Homo sapiens: one gene and its partners. The protein of the gene in region 3 purifies or fractionates together with the protein of the main gene of each other region. This does not show direct contact. Each region holds a gene or a part of one and is shown on either strand. Other genes may lie near its edges. The genes, in order: PMPCB, PMPCA and PTPN7.

Evidence for each region.
Region 1: the proteins of PTPN7 (region 3) and PMPCB purify together in Homo sapiens (affinity purification with mass spectrometry, with the first as the bait; 2 studies listed by BioGRID). This does not show direct contact.
Region 2: the proteins of PTPN7 (region 3) and PMPCA purify together in Homo sapiens (affinity purification with mass spectrometry, with the first as the bait; 2 studies listed by BioGRID). This does not show direct contact.

The regions. Positions count from the first base shown.
Region 1 is NC_000007.14:103,292,709-103,300,463, reverse strand, and holds the start of PMPCB (mitochondrial-processing peptidase subunit beta isoform 1 precursor), read right to left. Parts: upstream 3,030-7,755; 5' UTR 3,005-3,029; coding exon 2,906-3,004; intron 1,897-2,905; coding exon 1,756-1,896; intron 1,022-1,755; coding exon 935-1,021; intron 287-934; coding exon 157-286; intron 1-156. UniProt on the Homo sapiens protein: Catalytic subunit of the essential mitochondrial processing protease (MPP), which cleaves the mitochondrial sequence off newly imported precursors proteins. Preferentially, cleaves after an arginine at position P2.
Region 2 is NC_000009.12:136,406,023-136,413,666, forward strand, and holds the start of PMPCA (mitochondrial-processing peptidase subunit alpha isoform 1 precursor), read left to right. Parts: upstream 1-4,635; 5' UTR 4,636-4,646; coding exon 4,647-4,717; intron 4,718-5,974; coding exon 5,975-6,177; intron 6,178-6,467; coding exon 6,468-6,547; intron 6,548-6,787; coding exon 6,788-6,870; intron 6,871-7,644. Other genes in the region: ENTR1 (endosome-associated-trafficking regulator 1), read right to left, coding at 1,123-1,539, 1,804-1,916, 3,852-4,217, 4,306-4,375. UniProt on the Homo sapiens protein: Substrate recognition and binding subunit of the essential mitochondrial processing protease (MPP), which cleaves the mitochondrial sequence off newly imported precursors proteins.
Region 3 is NC_000001.11:202,157,533-202,165,323, reverse strand, and holds the start of PTPN7 (tyrosine-protein phosphatase non-receptor type 7), read left to right. Parts: upstream 1-4,779; intron 4,780-5,334; exon of another isoform or gene 5,335-5,804; coding exon of another isoform or gene 5,805-5,921; coding exon 5,922-6,043; intron 6,044-7,022; coding exon 7,023-7,206; intron 7,207-7,500; coding exon 7,501-7,585; intron 7,586-7,791. UniProt on the Homo sapiens protein: Protein phosphatase that acts preferentially on tyrosine-phosphorylated MAPK1. Plays a role in the regulation of T and B-lymphocyte development and signal transduction.

The DNA of each region.
Region 1 (7,755 bases), on a different chromosome or scaffold from region 3:
AAAAATAAGATCAGCTGTACCCTCACCCAGAATTCAGTTTCGCTTTTTCACATTTCTGGAACTTACTCTTTTACAACAGACATAATAAAAATAGTACTAAATAATTCCTGATTCTCATGAAAATTACATTATCTGCTGTATAAATAATAACAGTACCTCTTGGCAAGTCTTTAGAGAATGCTTTGGCATAGTATACAGTCTGCTCTCTGGAGGTATAGGCATTGAGATGAGCACCCATATTTTCAATCTCAAGTTCCAGATCTAACTGGGATCTCTTCTTGGTGCCCTTGAAATAAAAGAGGAAAAACAAATTATGCAAACTCCCTTTATACTTCATCTATTCTACTTCAGATAATGAATATGGAGGACATAAGTTAGTTTCATGCAGGGTCAAATTTGGTTTCTAAAGTACATCAGGTATGGTACGATGGCTCACACCTGTAACCCCAGCACTTTGAGAAGCTGAGGCAGGCAGATTGAGCCCAAGAGATCGAGGCCAACATGGCAAAACCCTATCTCTATGAAAAAACAAACAAACATATATATATATATAGATACTCCCAGCTACTCCAGAAGTAAATGTGGGAGGATGGCTTGAGCCTAGGAGGCGGAGGTTGCAGTAAGCAGATTGCGTCACCGCACTCCAGCCTAGGCAACAGAGCCAGATCCTATCTCAAAAAAAATTAAATAAAAAAAAATAAGGTACATCAGGCTTCAGAAATGGTATACGTTCAGATAACTCCTGCATCCCAAGAGAAAGTTTTCATTTCAGCTTTACAAAGCAATTATCACTACTTATTTTAGATACTGTCCTGGAAAAATAAACATAAAACATGTTATACTACTGAAAGAGCTCTCCCTGCCTCTAAAGAATGAGACTTTGTGCTTATTATCTCTTAAAGAGAGTGCATTTTTGTAAAGTCTTACAACTTGCCTTGAAAGCCATATGCTCCAGAAAGTGTGCTGTTCCATTGTTCTTCTCATTTTCGTATCTACTTCCAGCATCAATCCAGAGTCCAACCTTAATGCAATCAAAGAACAATTAAATAAATTCATTTTATTTATTTGAGGTTGGGGGGAACAGTCTCCTTCCTTTTTCTGACAAATGCTTTCTGGTCTTAACACTAAGATTTTCTTGACCTGAGTGAATTGATAGTTCATTCCTGTGAACTATGAGATTTAAAAATTTCGATCAGGATACTGCTGGGTGCTACAAGTATCTACCTGCCACCTTCAATGAGGATTCTTTGCCCAACTCATTAATCCAGCCAATTAATAACTGTAGTATCAAGAACATCAGAGACTGTCAGAAAACTTCGGTTGAAATCCTGGCTCTGTCATGTATTAGCTGAGTTACCTGAACAAAACCATTTAACTTCTCTCACTTCCTTAACTATAAAACAGGTGTGAGGATGCCCACTACAAACAATTGCTTTTTATCAAATAAGACATCAGTAAAAACACTTGGCAGAGTAGCCCTGCAAACATATTTCTTTCATTATTATCAATACTACTGAAAATAAATAATCAATAATAAGCTACAAGAACAAGATGCAGACAATGCAACAGGATACATATGCACCCTGTAACTAAGTACCACTGGAAGAAAAGGTTCACAACTCATGGAAATCTGTCAAGGCAAAATAACTGTCACCCTTTTTGAACCACCAGCCAACGAAAAAGCTAAAGATTAAAATCAACAATTTGCTACGCTAAATGAAGGGTCACTTAGAGAAGGTTGCCTGAGTCACTTACTGTGCATGTTGAGAGCCCAGAGTCTTCCGAAGCTACTCTGAGTCCACTTTCTAAACATGTTACTCTTGTTTCAGGAACATTCAGAACAACTTGGGTAGCAGCCTGTGTACTTCTTAATCTGTTCTCTCCAAAATATAATGACTGGTTGGGGGTAGGAAGTGGAAGAGACAAAGCAAAACACATTACTAATCTGATATTAAATGTTGCTTTTAAAACCAAATCTATTTTAAATAGGCTGTCTCTATAAAAGAATCTTTCTTCTTGAATTTTGGTTCCACTGAGATCTCTGCCTGGCCTAGAAACATCTGTCACCAGCCACTGTCCTAAAGCCAGCAACGTGTTTATAAACATGCCCTTCCCTCAGGGAAGATGAGCAATTATTATCATTACCCAGAGAGAAATTGACTTTATTTCACTACCTCTCCTAGAAATGTTTTATATTCATTATGGAGAAAACAAGCAGGAAAAAAAAAAAGAGAGGGAAACTATGTAAAACTACCTACACACAAGACAAAACTGACACTCGGGTTTTCATTGTTCAAGAAAAGCAACAGGGTTTGGAAATGGTTAAAAAAAAAAAGAGAGAGAGGATAGGAAGATGGGTCGATGTTCAAAATGCAAATGACTGGCTTTTCGGCCAGAAACTATTCGCCTTTCAGCAGTTTTTCTTTGCCCTTATACAAAAGTCTCACATCCCTTTGCTTAAAGTCAGAGGCTCTCTCATGAGAAAAATGCAAATACATAAAAAATTTTACTTCATTGATGTCCAGGTTCGCGGGAAGCCCAGCTGAGGACGAAGTTCAGTCTTAGGCAAAAATAGAACTCTGGAGCGGTACCCATTTCACTTTTTAGTTTTCCCCAATTTGCAAGCACTACGTTTTTAGTGGTCAAACATGCACTCCTCAGTAGCTGGCGGGAGGAGCCGAAAACCAGGGTCATCCCACACGTCACTAGCAGGTCTCCTGGCGGGTGGCCACAAGCCAGTCACCCCCGGCCAGTTCAGCAGCCCCAGGCCGCCTGGCGCCCGGCGGGTCCGGGTCGAGGAGGCCCTGCCCGACCCACTGTTCGGATCTGTGGCGCCGACTCTCAGGTGCGCTGCGCCGGGTCTGGCGAGATCTCGAGGACAGGACCGGCCTGGAGGGAAGCTCACCCGTCCCGCAGCGCCTCGGATTAGAAGACTCTCGCTGAAACCCCAGAGCCGCCGCCGCGCCGCGGATGACAACACCACTCGAGCCGCCGCAGCCGCCATTTCTGCTAGAAGGAAGGTAGAGGATGAAGGATGTGCTTCCGGGGTCGCGACCTGAGGTCCCAGAGCAGGGAGGTGGGCTCCACCTTGTGGCCGTGATGGGAATGACACTCCTCGAAGCGGTTGTGAAAGCAATCAGGGCCCGACCATGATGCTGAGCGGTCTTTACCAAATGAATTGGGGAGTCTGCAGAAGCCCCTTTATCATCAGTTATTTTATCGATCGCCTACTAAGTGCAAGGCACAAATGCGGTGGAATGAAAGGTAACCTGATGCAATATATCTCACTGGTGGATGGAATTGATTGAAAACAGTGGAATAATATTCATAAGTCACTGCCTTTAAAGGAAAAGTCTAGTGGGAGAGACAGATGCCGTGAGGGGAGGAAACGATGTATCCGTGTTGACCACTATCCACTCTTCGAACCTCTACAATATGGCTCATCTCATTCCATAGAAATTGCCCTTGGTAAGGTCACTAATTGCTAAAAGTTGGACACTTTACAGACTTATGTTACAGTCCTGTTGGAGGATTTGACATTGTTGGCTTCTTTGAAATTCTCTTTTCTCAATATATTCTAGAGCTCCACCTCCTCATAGTTCCCTCTGCACCTTCTTGGACTCCTCTTTATTCACAGATCTGTTTTTTGTTTTTGTTTTTGTTTTTGAGATGGAGTTTCACTCTTGTTGCCCAGGCTGGAGTGCAGTGGTGCAATCTCAGCTCACTGCAACCTCTGCCTCCTGGGTTCAAGCAATTCTCCTGCCTCAGCCTCCCAGGTAGCTGGGATTACAGGCATGTGCCACCACGCCTGGCTACTTTGTATTTTTAGTAGAGATGGGGTTTCACCATATTGGTCAGGCTGGTTTTGAACTCCTAACCTCAGGTAATCCACCCACCTCCACCTCCCAAAGTGCTAGGATTACAGGCGTGAGCCACTGCGCCCAGCCCACAGATCTCTCAAGGAACTAAAAATTGCAAATGCTTTTCTAACTCAGGTAGATGGTATAGTGCTTATTTTGCAATTAAGACACTGAAGTCAAATAACTTGCCCCAGGTTACCCTGCTAGTAATAGGTTAACGCCAAAGACTGTGCTGTGAAACACTACATTTTGCCCTAAAAGTTGGTGTTTGCCAGGACTCTAAGCCTCTTCTACTGAACATTCTCCCTCTGGGTTTTTCCCTCCACTTCAAGACCTGTCTGCCCAACCCAGGCCTTTCTCTTGAGCTCCAGCCCACTTAACCATCAACTACTAGGAAACTACACTTGAATACCCCATTGGAAACTCAATATCAACTTGTCCAAAAGGGAATTCACTGTGTCCCCTGAATCTCTTCCCATATTTGCAATGCCAAACAGCCAATCATACCTACATTTGCCCAAAACTCCAAACCACCCAGAAGCTCCTCTCTTTTTCCATCTTCCACATTCAATTGATACACCCCTTTCCTGCCTCTTCAATCTACTCCAGGCCCATTGTCAGTTTTTTCACATTACTACCTATAGGATCTTTTACAAATGAAACTGTTACGGCAGTCCCATTATGAAGAATCCATCAGGGAGCCCTTGGTCACAATAAAGTAAAGGGTCCTTAGCATGGCAGGTGGGGCCCTTCATGATCTGACTCCCATTTATCTTTCCAGACTCATCTCCCTCCACCTACCCGGCTGCTATGCTTCGCAGGTTCAGTCCACAAGACTCATGATGTAATGTAATAAAGGACGACCAAGGTTATTCTCTCATGTTTCTAAAACAAATGTGTGTTAACCAAAAATAAATACAAACATGCATACATATATACAAAAACATGTAGGTATAATCACAGGAAGCACCTAGGAAGTTTTAGCAAGAATTTGTATTCAATTCTAATATACTTCATGGTATTAATTTATTAGTCATTATTTACAGTCAATATCTTAGAACATAAAGCCTACAGAAATTAAGTGCACCAGAGTAGAGCCAAGAAATCAAAGAATTTGACTACTCCCAAAATAGCCCTACACCCACAACAGTATCCATAACTTTTTTTCTTTTTTTTTTTTTTGAGACGGAGTTTCTCTCTTGTTGCCCAGGCTGGAGTGCAATGGTGCAATCTCAGCTCACTGCAACCTCCGCCTCCGGGGTTCTAGCAATTCCCTTGCCTCAGCCTCCCAAGTAGCTGGGATTACAGGTGCCCACCACCACACCCGGCTACTTCTTGTACTTTTAGTAGAAACGGGGTTTCACCAGTTTGGCCAGGCTGGTCTTGAACTCCTGACCTCAAGTGATCCTCCCGCCTCAGCCTCCCAAAGTGCTGGGATTACAGGCGTGAGCCACTGCACCTGGCCTATTTTAAATGATTTCTTCACTGACTGGATTTTACTGGCAGAGTCATTGCTATTTTTGTTGTTTGGAAATTTTAATCATGGATGTCATATTCCTTTAATTCTTTCATGTTTGAGGATGTCTGCTTTTATCTTTATACTTGAATGACATTTTTGTCTGGATTTAATATTGTTGGGTCACAGTTTCATTTTCTCAGAATTTTATAAACATTACTCCATTATGCTCTTGAGTTAAATGTTTTGGAGAAGTCTGAGGCTAGCCAGATTTTTTCTTTTTTTACCACCCTTAAATGTGACCTGTTTTATCTGCCTAAAAACCTAAAAAATTATTCTTGAAGTTCAGTAACTTAACTAGGCTATATCTTAATGTTGAGTAATTTTTGTGTTGTGATTTTTATCAAAATTTTCAAAAACATAATATGTTTTCATTCTGCAGTTTCACTTCTTCCTTCATTTTAGAGAAAGTCTCTTTGAATACATATTCTGGCATTCCATTCAGTATGTTATCTTTTCAAGGACTGCAGCTCTCCTTATGCTGAATGACTTTATCTGTCCTTCATATTTATTAGCATCTCTCTAACTTTTTAAAGCTTTGTCATTTTCCTCTACTTTTTTTGTGATTATCTCAAGACACAAGTAGGCCTACGCAAACATGCCCTACTAATTTTTAGCAAACGTGCAGAGGCAATTCAATAGATGAAGAATAGCATTTCAACAAATGCTGCTGGAACAATTAGATGTTCATATCCACGGCTCCCCGCTCCCCAACTCCCAATGAACCTAAACCTCACACTTTATACAAAAATTAACTCAAAATAAATCATGGATGCAAATATGTGACATAAAACTATAAAACTTTTAGAAAAACACGTAGGATAAAATATTTGGGATATAGGAATAGACAAGGAGTTTTTAGACCTGATATCAAAAATATAATGCTTAAAACAAGATTAAAGCCAGGCGCGGTGGCTCACGCCTGTAATCCCAACACTTTGGGAGGCCAAGACAGGCAGATCACCTGAGATCAAGAGATCGAGACCATCCTGGCCAACATGGTGAAACCCCTTCTCTACTAAAAATACAAAAATTAGCTGGGCATGGTGGCACGCACCTGTAGTCCCAGGTATTGAGAGGCTGAGGCAAAAGAATCGCTTGAACCTGAGAGGCAGAGGTTGCAGTTAGCTGAGATCGTGCCACTGCACTCCAACCTGGTGACAGAGGAAAACTCCATCTCAAAACAAACAAACAAACAAAAAAAACAAGATTAAAAGCTTTTGCTCTAAAAAAGATGCTGTTAAGAGGATGAAAAGACAAGCTACAGACTGGGAGAAAATATTTGCAAACCACATATTCAGCAAAGGACCTGTGTCTGAATTATGCAAAAAAACCCTCTCAAAAACAGTGAAAAAAAATGGGCAAAAGACATGAACAGACATTTCACTGAAGGAGAAATACAGATGGCAGATAAGCACATGAAAAGATGTCCAATATCATCAATCATTACAAAATGCAAATTAAAATGATGAGCTATCGCTACACATGTAGCAGAATGGCTCAAGTGAAAAACAGCAATAACACCACATGCTGGCAAGGATATAGAAAAACAAGATCACTCATACATTACTAGTGGGAATATAAAACTCCAGAGTAGTACAGCCACTTATTATACAACCCAGTAATTGAACTCCTGGGCATTTATCCCAGAAAGATGAAAACTGAAGTTTACACAAAAACATCTACACATATATTCATAGCAGCTTTACTCATGATAGCCAATAATTGGAAATAATGCAAATGTCCTTCAACAGGTGAATGGTTAAACACACTGTGGTACATTCGTACCACGGAATACTACTCAGCTCTCAAAAGGAATGAACTACTGATAAATGCAACAACTTGAATGGGCCTCAAGGGAATTATGACAATACCAAAAGGTTATATGCTATATGATTCCATTTATATAACATTCCTGAAATGACAGAATTATAGAGATGGAGAATAGACTCGTGATTCCCCAAGGGTTGGACTGGGGAGGGGAGAAGCGCAGGGACAAGAGGGAGATGAGTATGGCTATGAAAGCGTGGCATGAGAGGTTCTTGAAGCAATGGGACCATTCTCTATTTCAACTGTGCTGCTAGTTACACGAATGTACACATGTAAAATTGCATAGCATTAAATACACACAAATGAACGCACATAAAACTGGTAAAATATGAATCAGTTCAGTGTATCGTATCGACGTCAATTTCCTGGTTGTGATATTGTTTCTATTCATGCAAGATGTTATTGTTGGGGCAAACTGGATGAAAAGTATATGGGATCTCTCTGTATTATTTCTTACAGCTACAGGTGGACCTACAATTATCTCAAAATAAAAAGTTTAATTAAAAAAAATGAGGTTACATTTCCAAAACCTTTTTCTTTTTATGGGAA
Region 2 (7,644 bases), on a different chromosome or scaffold from region 3:
TCAAAAGGGCGTGTGCTTCTGCGGTGTGGCTCCAGAGCCTCCTGATAAGCAGAGATGCTGGGTCAGTGCAGCATCCACCTGCAGCCACTACAGAGGGAGACCACAGACGGAGGCAGGCACTTTTCAAAGACCTGTGGTCACAGATGCCAGTTAATTTTACTCAGAGGCCGGGGGCAGTGGCTCGCGCCTGTAATCCCAGCACTTTGGGAGGCCGAGGTGGGCGGATCACAAGGTCAGGAGTTTGAGACCAGCCTGGCCAACACGGTGAAACCCCCGTCTCTACTAAAAATACAAAAATTAGCCAGCAGTGGTGGCGGGCACCTGTAGTCCTAACTACTCGGGTGGCTGAAGCAGGAGAATCACTTGAACTCGGGAGGCGGAGGTTGCAGTGAGCCGAGATCGTGCCACTCCACTCCAGCATGAGCAACAGAGTGAGACACTGTCTCAGGAAGAAAATAATTTTTCTTTTTTTTGAAACAGAGTTTCGCCCGTCGCCTAGGCTGGAGTACAGTGGCGTGACCTCGGCTCACCGCAACCTCCGCCTCCCGGGTTCAAGCGATTCTCCTGCCTCAGCCTCCCAAGTAGCTGGGACTACAGGCGCCTGCCGCCACGCCCAGCTAATTTTTGTATTTTCAGTAGAGACAGGGTTTCACCATGTTGGCCAGGCTGGTCTCAAACTGCTGACCTCAGGTGATCCACCCACCTCGGCCTCCCAAAGTGCTGAGATTACAGGCGTGAGCCACGGCGCCCAGCTAAAAAATTTTTTTTTTTATTCAGAGCTTATAACCTTTTAGGTGATTATAATTTTTTAAAAATTTTCCTCCTCTTGGAATACTTAGCAAGCTGGCGACTGCAGCCTGCCTTTACTGAGGGTACAGCCCTGTAAGTGCCCAACTGCATCCAATTCACAGCTTCTAGCTCACCAGTCCTCTTTAGCCGGTTCTATTCCCACGTGTAACCAGAAGCAAAGTCAAAGGGAAAGTGGATAGCAGGCTGTCACGCAAATCGCCTTGTCCTGGAAATCAAACCAGGCCACCCAAGAGGTAGGATGGCTCCAGGTTCTCCCCGGGAGAAGCCGCTCGGACAGGCGCTGTGCCAGAGGGCGCCGTGAGGCTCACTTACTGCGTCGTAACTTATCTGCAGCGTCCGCAGGTGCCTGTCTCCCAGAGACTCTCCATGAACCGCAAAGTCTGCGCTAGGACTCCCTGCCGGAGAGGCCGGAGACACGCGAGAATCAGTGTCACTCAACGCCCACGAGGGCAGAGACTCAGGCCCTGCCAGCTCCGACGGGGTGGAGAAAAAGGAAAGGTATGTGCTGCAGGGCGACGTGCCGGCAGGGACCCTCTCGGGGTGAGTCTGCTCGATGGCGGACGGCAGGTAGGCCCCACTCCATCCGGTGTCCTCATCCTCCTCCTCATCCAGGAGGTCACCAGCCCCTGTCGGATCCTCGAAAAATGGCTGCTGATACTCCAGGCCATACCCGCCGGTTTGGGAGGGTGGGGAGTTGTGGTCAAGTCCCAGGGAATGCCTCGAGGCTTCCTAAAAAAAAAAAAAAAAAAAAAACAATGGAGGCCATGCTTCTGACTCGGAGCGCATCTTCCTTTCTGTGTTCTGCCTCGCAACAAGAAGAAAGGCCCAATCTCTCTACCGGAAGGAGCCCAGCAGCTTCTGAGCCCAGAGCTGCTCCCCAGCACTGACGCCTGCCTGCTCTGCCACACTCATGCACGATTCCTCCAAAGGAGGCTGCAGAGGCCGGAACAGAAACGTCCCACAGAGCCATCGCCCACAGTGCCGTGGATTTACCTTTGCATAAATTCTGCTGGCCGGATCCTCTTTCGAGAGGCCGAGGTTCTTGGTCTTCAGAAACTCTCTAAAAGAGAATGGATTTGCCTCTTCCAGATCTTCAAATCTGTCATCTGAAATAACAGACATCACAAATGCATAAAGTCTACTGAAGAGCGTTGAAAGGGAACCTTCCTGTTCACCTGTCTTTCCAGAGCATGGCCACATGTGAGATCGGGCAGCCACGCTTGTCATTCTACCATGACTCAGGCAGCACTAGGAAGTGTGAAGGTGGCTGAAGGTGGGCAGTGACACAGACGTGCGTCTGCATTTGCAATCTTCTCCTTCCACCCCTCGGCCCCTGCTCCCACACTGTGCTGCTCACTAAAGCTCCCCTGGGGAGCTTTAAAACGACCCAAGCCACTCCACTGCACACACCCAGCTCCCTGGTGTGAGGTCAACCTGTGCTAGGAGCTCTCAAAGCTCCTCAGGTGGCCAGGTGTGGTGGCTCACGCCTGTACCCCAGCACTGTGGGAGGTCAAGGCGGGCGGATCACGAGGTCAGGAGACTGAGACCATCCTGGCTAACACGGTGAAACCTCATCTCTACTAAAAATACAAAAAATTAGCCAGGCGTGGTGGTGAGCGCCTGTAGTCCCAGCTACTCGGGAGGCTGAGGCAGGAGAATGGCGTGAACCTGGGAGGTGGAGCTTGCAGTGAGCCGAGATCGTGCCACTGTACTCCAGCCTGGGCGACAGAGCGAGACTCTGTCTCAAAAAACAACAACAACAACCAGCTCCTCAGGTGCTGCAACGCTGGGGACCCAGTGCCCCCTGACCCTCTTCCCGACTTTCCTACCTAGGTAGCCTAAATAACGCCCACTTTTCCCTTCTCCCTCTTGCCACCGCCTTCCCACCCTCCGGGGACTTAAGCAGCCACACTCGACCCTCCCAGCTGTGAGCCCCATGTAAAGCTGGCTCCTGTGGCCCCAGCCCCCCAGGTGGGGCTTCCCCGCTCCCTGATGTCACCTCGCTGCTACTCTAGGATCAAGACTGAACCCTTGAAATCCCACCCCCACCTGCTCTTTTGGGCTCCAGCTACACCACATAGCCAGTCACATTGACAGTCCCACCAGACACGTGCCTGGCACTGTGTTGGATGGAGACAAGAAGAAAAGGTTGCTGAACTACTCTACCTCCAAAATGTGTCCCGTGGGCTCCTGACGGGCTCTGCTTAGAACATTTCCCCTTTCCATAGCCAAAATCTGCAAAGAAACAATGTCACCCACCATGCTGGCAGGAAGTCTTTATGACCTCACATTTGGTTTTTTTCTTTTGCACATGGAGTCTCCACTGCAGTGGTTCTCACAGTCTAGAGAACTTTTTTTTTTTTTTTGAGACGGAGTCTTGCTCTGTCGCCCAAGCTGGAGTGCAGTGGTGCGATCTCGGCTCCCTGCAAGCTCCGCCTCCTGGGTTCACGCCATTCTCCTGCCTCATCCTCCCGAGTAGCTGGGACTACAGGCACCTGCCACCACGCCCGGCTAATTTTTTTGTATTTTTTGTAGAGACGGGTTTTCACCCTGTTAGCCAGGATGGTCTCAATCTCCTGACCTCATGATCCGCCTGCCTCGGCCTCCCAAAGTGCTGGGATTACAGGCGTAAGCCACTGCGCCCGGTCAGCCGAGAAAACTTTAAAAAAAACACAAGCTCCCAGACTTGTGACCCTGGAGATGGCCTGACTTGCAGACTGGCCCTGGTGTCCGTGGTCTGAAAGCGGCTCCTCAGCAGATTTTGAAGCCCAGCCGGGGCAAGCGCGTCCTCTTGTCTTGTGACAACCCCCGAATGTCCTCAGATCCTGGCATAACCACACAAACACTCCTGCACACCCCGGGCACCCAGCAGCACTTCTGCTTGGGTAGAACGAGGACGAACCAGATCTGGCCACTGCCCGGCTGTGGAGGCAGATGGAATGCTCCAGCTCGGTTTCCAATCACTGCCCACTAGGTGAAGGCACCCCGACTCCAGCCCCACGAGGAAAGCGGGCGGGCTCCTGTGCTCCCCGGGCACTAACCATCCTGTACTGGAACTGTCTGTCTTGGGGGAGGTCTCCCCGCAACCAGACTGTGAGCTCCTAGCAGGGGACTCCGCCTTTGAATTCCGAGTGCCTGGCACGCAGTGAGCGCTCTGCACATTGATGGGTCAATGGACGAGCTCGTGCTGCAGCGGAGGTGCCACACGTGGCGCGGGAACTGGAAGCGTCCCCGGGGCCGGCGCCCTCGTCTCTCACCTGTGTCTCCCACGGAAGCCAGCACCGGGCTGGGCACATAGCACATAAAGGCCGGCCGAATGCCGAAGAAGGGGGAGTCCAGGTCCCTGCCATGGGGGCGCTCACAATTTAGCTGGGGGAGACAAGACCGGCGCTCATAGAACGCTGGAGCTGGAAGCAACGACAACAGCGACTTTACTGCGTGCCGGGGCGGCCGCCGCCCACCTGGACCGCTGGACTCGGCCCCTGCCCCGCTCACCGTCGGGAATGGCGAGGCTCCGGGCTCGGGACAGCGGGGTGGCGCCCGGGCGGCGCTGGTAGCCCGACATCGCCGCCGGCCCGGCGGGGCACGACCTGCCTAGCCCGGCAGCGGCGGCTCCATGGCCCCGGCTCCGCCCGTGCCGCGGCCCGCGTCGCCCGCCCCCGTCGCCCGCCCCCGTCGCCCGCCGCTCGGCCGCCCCCGCGCCTCCGAGCCTCTCGCCGCTGCTTCCGCTCCGAGCACCGAAAGCGCGTGCCTGAACGCCTTGGGCCGTCGGCGAGGGGGAGGGGAAGCCGTGGGCGGAAGCGGAAGTGACGACTGAAGCGGGGCGGAGACGCAAGATGGCGGCTGTGGTGCTGGCGGCGACGCGGTTGCTGCGGGGCTCGGGTTCTTGGGGCTGTTCGCGGCTGAGGTGAGCCAAAGGCGAACCAGGCTTCGGCCTGGGGCGGGGGCGGCTCGAGTCTTTCTGGACGCTCCGTCTTCGGTTTCTACAGGTGACATGGCGCCCGTGGGACGGGCTCGCACTTCGGGACACTGGTGTCCCCGAGGCGACGGGGGCCCTGCCTTGCTTTGCGCCTCGAGCCCGGGGACGCAGTCCCATCTGTCTCTCCTCTCCCCGGCTGCTGGGTCCTCTCCCCCCCTCACTTCCCGGGTCGACGGGCCTTCTCCGAGGCCATGCCTCATATTTGCCCCCGCGCTTCACCTACCGCGTGCTCCTTCAGGAGGCTGAGCCGGTGGGGGCCCAGCTCTGTTAGACCCGCAGGGTTCTGACACCAGGGTCCAGGCTCTCGGTTGCTGCGGTCTGTCCGTTGATCTCTGACGTTTAAGAACCCTTTCCGTACCCACCGCTCCTCCCACCCAAGTGACCGGGCCTGCCTTTCCCCACGCTGGAACTTTGTTCCGACAGCACAGGCGTCGCCCCTCCCCACACAACGAGCGCCGTTTCAGGGGTGCGGAGGTGCTGCCTCCAGGAGATGGATACAGGCTGGAGCGTAAACAAAATATCGGCAGTCGCGTAAATGCTTTGGAGTAAACAAGCAGCCTTTCATGATAGAAAATAGCAGGAAAGACTAGACTGGTGAGGGATAGTCCTCCATCAGGGTGACATTTAAGGGAAGAGCTGAAGAATGAAAGAAGGGGTAGGCATGGGCAAAGGGCAAGCCCTGGAACGGTGAAGAAGCTTTGGGGTTGATGAGTCAAATGTGTTCCAGGAATTGACAAGAATCAGTGTGACCAGGACCTATGGGAGTGTGGGGGTTCAAGAGATGAGTTTGGAGAGGGAGACAGAGGCCAAGTCACACCCCGCCTTCGGACCAGGTTAATAAGGGATATGGCTTTTATCCAAGACTTCGGTGGTGCTGTTGGAGGGCAGAGCTGTTAAGTGCTTTATGTGTACAAACTGCACTTAGAGTGAGTTACTGTTAATAAGCCCTGTTTTTACAGAGATAGCAACTAAGACCCAAAGGACGGAACCAGCTTGCTCCAGGTCCCGTGGCTGAGCCTTTGTTGTCAGCCTCTGCTTTGTCTTCCAAAGTCTGTAGAAATAAGTCCTGTAGAAAGGCAGATGCTCACTTTTAACCCAGACAAAACATAACTAACCGCACCTAACAGGTCATCACAGGTTTGTTGTCTCAAGCCTGTTGTAACTGGGCCGCTTTCTCTGTTTTAGGTTTGGACCTCCTGCGTACAGACGGTTTAGTAGTGGTGGTGCCTATCCCAACATCCCCCTCTCTTCTCCCTTACCTGGAGTACCCAAGCCTGTTTTTGCTACAGTTGATGGACAGGAAAAGTTTGAAACCAAAGTAACCACATTGGATAATGGGCTTCGCGTGGCATCTCAGAATAAGTTTGGACAGTTTTGTACAGTAGGAAGTAAGTACTGTTGTGTTGTCGTGGGTGGTCCCGCAGTTTTAACATGCACATGCTTTAGTTGACTGTTAGTTGTAATTAGCATGCCAATTATGAATTGTACCCTGAGTGGAAACAAAGTGTACGATTTCATAAATGTTGAGCTACACATATACCTGTGAAACCATCAGCACAATCACCCTCATGTAATTAAATCTGATTATCATGTCATATTGACATCTTAAAATGTTTCTCTTGATTAAATCTTATTTTGAATATCTGATGTAACCTGTCAATTTTCTTTTTACTACTAGTTCTTATCAATTCAGGATCGAGATATGAAGCGAAATACCTTAGTGGAATTGCTCACTTTTTGGAAAAATTGGCATTTTCGGTCAGTACCCAGTTTTGTAATTTTTTAGACTATACTTTTGAAGGATGTTTGAGATTTTTCTTGTCTATAATGGTTATTTTAATAAATTATCAAGTTGCTAAGTTAATGTTAATAAAAGACTTTTAAGTTAAAAGATAATTTTTGTATGTGTGTTAAAAGCAAAAGTAGATTTTAAAAAAAAATTGTGTTTCAGGGATAGCCTGGATTGCTTATTTAGGTTTCCTTATTTATTTTTACTAGTCTACTGCTCGATTTGACAGCAAAGATGAAATTCTGCTTACGTTGGAAAAGCATGGGGGTATCTGTGACTGCCAGACATCAAGGTACACCAGCTTTTGTGTACAAACTGACTTTGGGTCCTTGGGAACTGACGTTCTTGTCGTTGCTCAGATTCCCTCTGAGCCCCTCCCAGCGGGAGGTGTGGAGATTCACGGGGAGAAGGAGCCCTGTCCTGGATGGAGACTTGGGTGGATGGCGCTTACACAGAGAAGCACAGCCCCCAGGAGCTCAGTTGACCCCCGTCAGTTCCTCCAGGCTGTTGGCTGCATGCCAGGGATGTAGAGCAGGCCCTGTTCCCAGATAGAGCAGAGGGCCTTGCATACGTAATGGACCCCGTAGCCAAAGGCGGTAGGAGCCAGGAGGATGAGTGGCTGACTTGGTCTGGAGTTGGGAAAGGAATCATAGGAAATGCAGGGTTGGGCTGGTTCCAGAAGGAGTTTGCTAGACACACGGGGCACAAGGCATTCCAGACCAGGAGACAGCAGGGGCAAAAGGCACCGAGCCAGGGAGGTGCCGGCTGCTTGGTGGAGGGAGGGGGCAGTGTTGCCTCGAGCACAGTGCAGTGGTCTTTGCATGCCAGGTGTGGAGCTTGTTCAGAAAGCACTGGGCAATGTGAGATGGGTGAATATAGATCACAGATTTTTAAAATTGTTGATTTAAGTTTGAATGCTAAAAAAATTACACATAAAAGACACATTAAATGCTAAGAATTAAAGTTAGCTTGGAGGTAACATATTCATGTTCTAAAACAAGGCCTCTTAATACCCCCTGACTCCCAGCTGCCCCTGCCAGGTTCCTGCCTGGTGTGTTTGATTCTC
Region 3 (7,791 bases):
CTGATAAATAAGCTGGGCATGGTGGCTCATGCCTGTAATCTCAGGACTTTGGGAGGCCAAGGTGGGCGGATCACCAGGTCAGGAGATCAAGACCATCCTGGCCAAAATGGTGAAACCTCGTCTCTACTAAAAATACAAAAAATTCGCTGGGTGTGGCGGCACATGCCTGTAATCCCAGCTACTCGGGAGGCTGAGGCAGGAGAATCACTAGAACCAGGGAGTTAGAGGTTGCAGTGAGCTGAGATGGCACCACTGCACTCCAGCCTGGTGACAGAGTGAGACTCCGTTTCAAAAAAAATAAAATAAATAAGCAGCAGCCTCCCCAGCCCAAACGTCTCCATTCAGCAAAAGAAAAGGTACCACGAGGGCTGTATCTCCTCCCCAGCAACCACCCCCACAGACAAACCCACATCCTCTCCCTAGAGAACCCCTGGGGTTCCCCCCCGCTACCCTGAGGTCTCAGGGCACCTTACTGATTCCTTCTGGAGAGAGCCAGCCAGGAGGCAGAGGAGAGAGCAAGGGGCAGGTCTGGGAGTGCTGGCTTCCAAATGTGAACTGGCCTGGCCTACAGCTGTCCCAGGCAGCGCTCTTCCGGCCCCTCCCTGCTCTCCCACAGCCTGAAGCCTGGCCTTGGGCAGCCCCCACACTGGAGGAAGATAATCACCGGGCAGCAGAGGGGCAGGGTGGCTCAGGACAGCCAAGTCGCCCACTCCCCCTGCTGCCTATACTATGGGGAAGGTGGCCAGGGAGTGGGGGAAGGCCTAGGTCCCCCTGACCAGGCCATGGGAGAGCAGGGGAGGGGCTGGTCATGTGTGGATTGACACTGTGCATGTGCATTTGTGCAAACGTGGGCCATGAGGGTGTACACACCTGTCTGGATGGATGTATGAGTGGGTGTCCGGGGACAACACAGAGCGGGAGGGAGACGGGAGCCCCTGGGAAGAAAAGGCCACATTGTAGAATAGATGTCCATTTGGCTGGCTCTGGGCTTGGGAGAGAGGGAGGGACTCTTCTATCCTAAAACCTTCCTGCCAGGGTCCTGAGTTCCAGCATCGGGCAAAGAACCAGGCACTTTCCTGGACCTCCTGGCAGGCTGGCCCTGGCATCCCAGTGCCAAGCAGGGCTGGATTACTGGTCCTCTCAGCCAGGGGTAAAGGGTATGGGATGTTCCCCTTCATCCAAAAGGTAGCAGGAGGTCCCTAGCTGGCCCGGCACAGGGTTGAAGCTTTGAGACAGGGGTGCAGTTGTCACTCTGGTCAGCCTGGACTTATCCCATGCCCTTAACAGCACTTCCCTGCCCCACTCACCCTGTCTCCCCTGCTGTCTCCCTGCTTCCTGTGGGATGAGGCTTCCCAGATCCAGTTCTTGGTGTTTCTGTCTCCCCGACACAAACAGGAACAAGCCAGGGCCTACAAAGTTGGGGCAGAACAAGCCAGCTCAGGCTGGCCTAGGGTTTTGGGGGTGGGAAGGATGGAGGAACAGCCACCCGAGATCCTAGTGCTTCTCCAGAGAGGAGCCGAGGAGGGCAGCTAGGAAGGGGGCAGAGCAGCTGGAGTGTGCAGGACCCAGCAGTCCTGGCCCCAGGCAGCTGACTCTCTCCCCAGGATCCTCCCCTTGGATTGTTAAAAGGTGGCAGCCTTTGCCTCTGGGGGCCAACTGCTCCCCAGCAAGGAGCTCCCTACTCCCTAGGGGCTGGCAAAGAGCAACGACTTCTGGGAATTCCAGATGTAATGTCCGCCTTTCCCCGGGCCTGGGCTAGGGAGGGGGGCGCTTCTGACACTTGGGGCAGGGAGCTGCGGCTCACAGCCCTGGAACTGGGAATCACTAGAGGGGAAAACAAGAGAGTCAAGACGTGTGTGGCCAGAGCTTGGGAGGGCTGAGGGCACCCACCACAGCCTCAGATGGGACAAGGCTGACTCTCAAGATGCATCATGCCCTGCACCAGTCCCTCCCCAGCCTGGCCTGGTGGCTTGGGACACCCCTCTTTGTCCTCCCTGGAGTGGACTCTGTCCCACCCGGGATGCTGGGAGACCCCTGGGAGTGACTCCTTCCTGCACTTCCTCAGTGCTCGGCTGGAAGTGCCCCGGCAGCCCGGGTTCAGGGAGAAAGTCAGCAGTGAGGAGGAAGAGGGAGGCTGGTGAGAGGTGAGACCCGGCAGCCATGACCTCCTCACCCTGTGCTGCTCCCAGACCCACTTCCCCAGCCAGCTCCTCCCAGCTCCTCGGTCCTCTGGCTGCTGACTCCCAACCTCTCCTCCGTGAGCAAAGCACACCATGGGCTGACAAGGGAGGTGCTATGATCATCCCCCAGTGGAGGGAGGAAGCTGAGGAGGAGCCTGAGACTCAGCAATTTGCCCAAGGTCACACAGTTAATAAGCTACGTTTAGACTCATTATGCATAGATCTTTCTGATTTCCAACTATTACTATACTTTCTCTGGAGTCGAGGGTGGCTAGAACCTAAATCTCAACCCAGGAACACAAATCGATTCGAGTGATGGAAGTTTGAGAGCTGCTGTGACCTTTTGGCCCCAGGGGTGGGAAGGTTCTGGAGGGGAGAGGGAGTCACGCCCAGGAGCCTTCCAACAGCCCGGATGGGACAGAGTCCACTCCAGAGAGGGCAGAGAGGGGCGTCCCAAGTCACCAGGCCAGGCTGGGGAGGGGGAGGTGCAGGGCGATGACGCATGTCTTGTGCCATCTGAGGTTGCAGTTGGCATCCTCAGCCCTCATGAGCTCTGGCCACACACCTCCATGGATGTCCAGGTATCCCTAAGCACAGGGGAAGAAGGAGTGGGCAGGAGCCAAGGAGTGACTGTCCCCTCTACCCCACATCCACCCAGAGGGAACAGGGGATCTTTGAGAGGTCTTGCCTAATGCTCAGCCACTACCCCCACCCCCAACCCCAACTATCTTCCCCATCGCCTGGCTCCCAGCTTCCTTGCTGTGAAGCTCAGCTTCCAACTGTCCAGCCACTGCTAGGCCTCAGTCTGTGGGGGAAAGGGGTGGGCTCACAGCCAACAGGGCTCAGACCCTGGAAACTTGGGGGGACCAGGCAGACCTGTGTGGGGAGGGCTTTGCCGCTTCCTCCTCCCACCCCTGTGGTGTCCTAGCTTCCTGTTCTTGATAACAATCAGCATAGGCTCAGAGCCGGGCCCTCTTTCCAACCCCCACCTGCCCCCTCCTGTGTCCCCAGGGCCCCCACTACCCACCAGTGGAAACACTGACTGGTGTGGGGGGTGAGGCAGAGGCCAGTCTCCAGGTCACTGCTCGCAAGCATGTTAGGGATTCCCAGGTTCCTGCTTCCCTCCAGTCTGTCCTGAGCACGGGAACCAACCCCTTTCCCAGCCCTAATCGGCCTCCTCCTCAGGGAAACCCACCCACTCCGGAGAGGAACGCAGGCTGCAGGGAAGGAGGTGCCAGGATCAGCTGGCCATGGAGGGGCTCAAAAAAGAGCCAGCCCCTGTCCCCACTGCCAAGAGCAAGGGCGGGTGCTGGGAGGCCTTCTGAGCCTCTGGGGGCTGTTCTTGTTCTTCGTCTCAACCCTCCTCCTCAAGGGGCCAGCAGAAGGCCAGCCCCCTCCCGACCACCCCCTCCGGCATGCCTACCCCCTGTGCCTAGGGTACCTCATTTCTTTTTTGCTGTCACCATTTGACAGCTGAATCAGGGAAGTGGGAGGAAGAAAGAGGACGTGGATTGTGCATGTTGGGGGCCGGGAAGGGAAGGGCGTTTGAAATGTTACAAGGTAAAAGGAGGCGTGCAGCGAGCATGAACCGGCTGGGCTGCTGGCCCGCAAGGAGCCTGCCAAGGTCAGGCAGGGGCAGTGGGCAGAGGAGTCTTGGACTTGGGGGCCACCCTTCAGGTCCCAGGCATCCAGGCACCCCAGCAGCGAAGAGGACATGGGAGTCCCCTGGTGTGAGGGCCAGAGACTGTCCACTGTCTGTAAGTCTTCTAAGTAGATGTCAGGGTTCTGGGAGGAGGCCTGCAGGGGGCTGAGGGCCCAGGGGAAGCCCCTCGGACTCCCTCCCACAAGTGGACTCTGCTATCTGCTTCCTGCTGGGCTGGCCTACACTCAGGCCGTGGGCTGTGGAGAGCTGGGCCGTGGCACAGGCGTGGAGACGACCTTTTTGGCCTGGCCCCGGCCCTTTCCTTCACATTGTGAGGCATGGATTCTTGCTTCTTCTTTTTCCCCACCCCGAGTCTGTGCCACATCTGCTCTGGGAAGATGTGGTCTGTGCTTGGCCATGAATTCCCAAGGCTTGAAGCAGCAAGGGCTTTGAGGGAGAGGGCCTTGAGGGAGAGGGCCTTGAGGGAGAGGGCTGTGGGGCAGAAGCAGAGAAGGAGAAATAAGCCTCCGGCCAAGGTCAGGTTGAGCAGGAGAGCCTTGGGTTCTTTGTGGGACAGCACAGAGCTGGGGGTCAGGCGAGCTGTGCCCAGCAAGTAGGCAGCGGCTGGATGTGACAAAGACCCAGAGGAGAAACACAGAAGAGGGGAGAGGGTCTGGAAGCTGGGGAAAGCAGGATGGTCGGGAAGGCCTGGCCCCTCACCCATTCCCAGGGAACGGGGCCTTGGGCCCCAGAAGGGCACAGGCGGGAGGCAGCCGACCCCTGGTGGCAGCGGCAGCAGGCACAGGAGGGCAGAATGCAGCTGGGGTGTGCGTGGGTGGCAGCAAGGAGGGGCGGAGGGAGGAAGCTGGCTTCCTGGAGCCTTCTCAGCCCTCAAAGACAGACCGACAGACAGACAGACAGCTGGCAAGAGGCAGCCTGGGGGCCACAGCTGCTTCAGTAAGTATCTGAAGGGGGGACTGGGAGTCCTGTGGCCCCGGGGGGTGCGAACTCCGGGGATATAAGAGGGCATCTCTAGGAGGGAGTGCGGGAGGGCGAGTGGGGCGCCACAGTGCCTGGCTGGGGTATGGGTGCTCACAGACCTGATGTCCCCAAGACGGGGGTGAGCAGGGAAGCCACAGGGAGCTACAAGGAGAGCAGAGGCTGAAGGGACCTTTTCTGCTACCAGAGACCCTCGCTCTACCACTCACACCTGTGCCAGGCCCATTCTGTCCCCTCACCTCCGTCCCTGCTGCCTTGGTGATTCAACACCCCCGCCACCTCGCCCACTGTGACCCTGGCTCTGGGAGATAGGGACTGCCCCCAAGAGGAGATGGTCCCACCACCTCCATGCCTCCTGTCTTGCCCCCAGCTGTCGCCTCACCATGCGCTGTCGTTCAAGGGCTTGGTGAGGCCATTTCCTGTGACGGTTACAGAGGCGGGAGACGGGGGGATGGGCAGGAGGAGGAAGGAAACACCTCCAGCCTACCTCCCTGGACAGAGACCCCAGAAGCCAGAAACAGACCTGGGAGTGGAACAGCAGCAGTTAGGAGAGGACCCTGCTGGGGTCCAGGAGCCCGCCTGCCTGGCTGCCCAACCAGCTCCAACACTGCTGGAGGCCTCCATTCTCTGTTCAGGGGAAGGCCCACTGGTTAGCTCAGAGATGGCTTCTGCGTGCTTTCTCCCTTCCGTCCTAGAGAACACATATTTTCTGTTTCCTCCCTTGCCTTCTCCCACTTGGACCTGCTCAGAGCCCTGTGTACTCTGGTGTGTGGCCTCTCTCCCCTCTCTCTTTTCCTCCTTCTGGATTCTTTCCTATCTTCATCCACAATCTCTACCCTTTATCTTGCCGTTACTCTACCCCGAGACTGCCTTCTGCCCTGGGTCCCACCAAATAGATCCTGTCCTTCCCTTAGTGAAAATGAGGCCACCTCTTGGGGAACAGAAGACGCCCCAGTGAAAACAGAGTGCAAACCTGGCCTGGCATGGGAGCCTCCTTCTGGCCAATCAGGCAGGCCAGAGAACAGCAGCGGAGGGCCCTGTCTTTCAGGCAGACCTCATGGCTGAGTGAGCCTCCCCTGGGCCCAGCACCCCACCTCAGCATGGTCCAAGCCCATGGGGGGCGCTCCAGAGCACAGCCGTTGACCTTGTCTTTGGGGGCAGCCATGACCCAGCCTCCGCCTGAAAAAACGCCAGCCAAGAAGCATGTGCGACTGCAGGAGAGGTGAGATCTTCCCTGGGGGAGGGGTCTTCCGAGCCCTGAGCCCCCATTCCGCTCCTCCCTTCCTTCCATCTGCCCCTCCAGCTCTGACAGCAGGGTCCAGAGGGCCCTCAGTTGTTGACTCCAATTTGGAAAGGAAACCAGTAGTGCTCATTTGCATGTCTTTTGCATGTCTGGAGCACAGAGTTTCATATCAACCATGAGCCTGCTCCCTAAATTCCAGGCAAGGCCCACAGCCTTCTTGGTGCTGGATGCATGTCGGAGCCACAGGGCCTGGCTGGGAGTGGGAAGAGGCAGGCAGCTGGAAGGAGCAGTTGAGTTCAAGGCTGCCCTGTTCTGGCTGACAAAGGGAGAGGGCTGAGCCAGGCATGGTAGCTCATGCCCAAAATCCCAGCACTTTGGGAGGCTGAGGTGAGAGGATCTCCTGAGTCCAGGAATTAGAGACCGGCCTAGGCAATATAGTGAGACCTCCTCTCTCTCAAAAAAAAAAAAAAAAAGAGGGCACACAGCAGGGGCCCAAACCCTAAATTTACTGGGCTACCAGGTTAAAGGAAAGATAAAGAGCGGCCCCCTCAGAGGTGCCTTATAACAGTAATACTTGTAAGAAAAGCAAATATGGTCAGGCACAGTGGCTCATGCCTATAATCCCAGCACTTTGGGAAGCCAAGGCAGAAGGATCACTTGAGCCCAGGAGTTCAAAACCAGCCTGAGCAACAGAACAAGACACTGTCTCTCCAAAAAAAAAAAAAACTTAAATTAGCCAGGTGTGGTAGCATGTACCTGTGGTCCCAGTTACTCTGGAGGCTGAGGTGGGAGGATTGCTTCAGCCCAGGAGTTTGAGGCTGCTGTGAGCCATAATAGTGCCATCACACTCCAGACCTGGGCAACAGAGAGAGACCCTATCTCTAAAAGAAAAGATAAAAAGAAAAGAAAAGCAAATATGATTGGGTGCTCACTAGGCAGTGGTGGGCTATGCCTGCAGGCGGGGCTCCAATGTGGCTCTGATGCTGGACGTTCGGTCCCTGGGGGCCGTAGAACCCATCTGCTCTGTGAACACACCCCGGGAGGTCACCCTACACTTTCTGCGCACTGCTGGACACCCCCTTACCCGCTGGGCCCTTCAGCGCCAGCCACCCAGCCCCAAGCAACTGGAAGAAGAATTCTTGGTAAGAAATTGGGGTCCCCTCTGAATCGCTCTGCCCTCTGTATCAGAGGCAGCCAGCTGGAACCATTCTCTCACGGGCACCCTGGGCAAGTCTCCCCTTTGGGCCCCTTAGGAAAGAGAACTTCAGGGCTGAGGGAGGGGCTGCCCCCAGGCTTCCCCTTCTGCCCCCACCCCATCTAGGCCTACATACTATTGTCAAGAAGGAATGGCCAGAGTCCAGCTGTTCTAGAAAAAGGTAGAAGGAGAGAAAAGGAGGCTAGGAGTCAGCTGCTCACCCATTTCCTCCCCCTGCCAGAAGATCCCTTCAAACTTTGTCAGCCCCGAAGACCTGGACATCCCTGGCCACGCCTCCAAGGACCGATACAAGACCATCTTGCCAAGTAAGAACTGCTGCTGGGATGAAGGGAGTCGGGTACAGTCCCTGGGGCTAGAGAACTTCAGAGGACAAAGTACACAGTTTCAGCCAGGGAAGATCAACCTTGCTTGGCACATCTTCTCTCAGCAGAGAAAGGGGGAAGAAGGAGCAAGAATCACAACAGCAGCAATAATAATGTTTGCAGATATGTACCCTGGGCCAGGCCCTGTT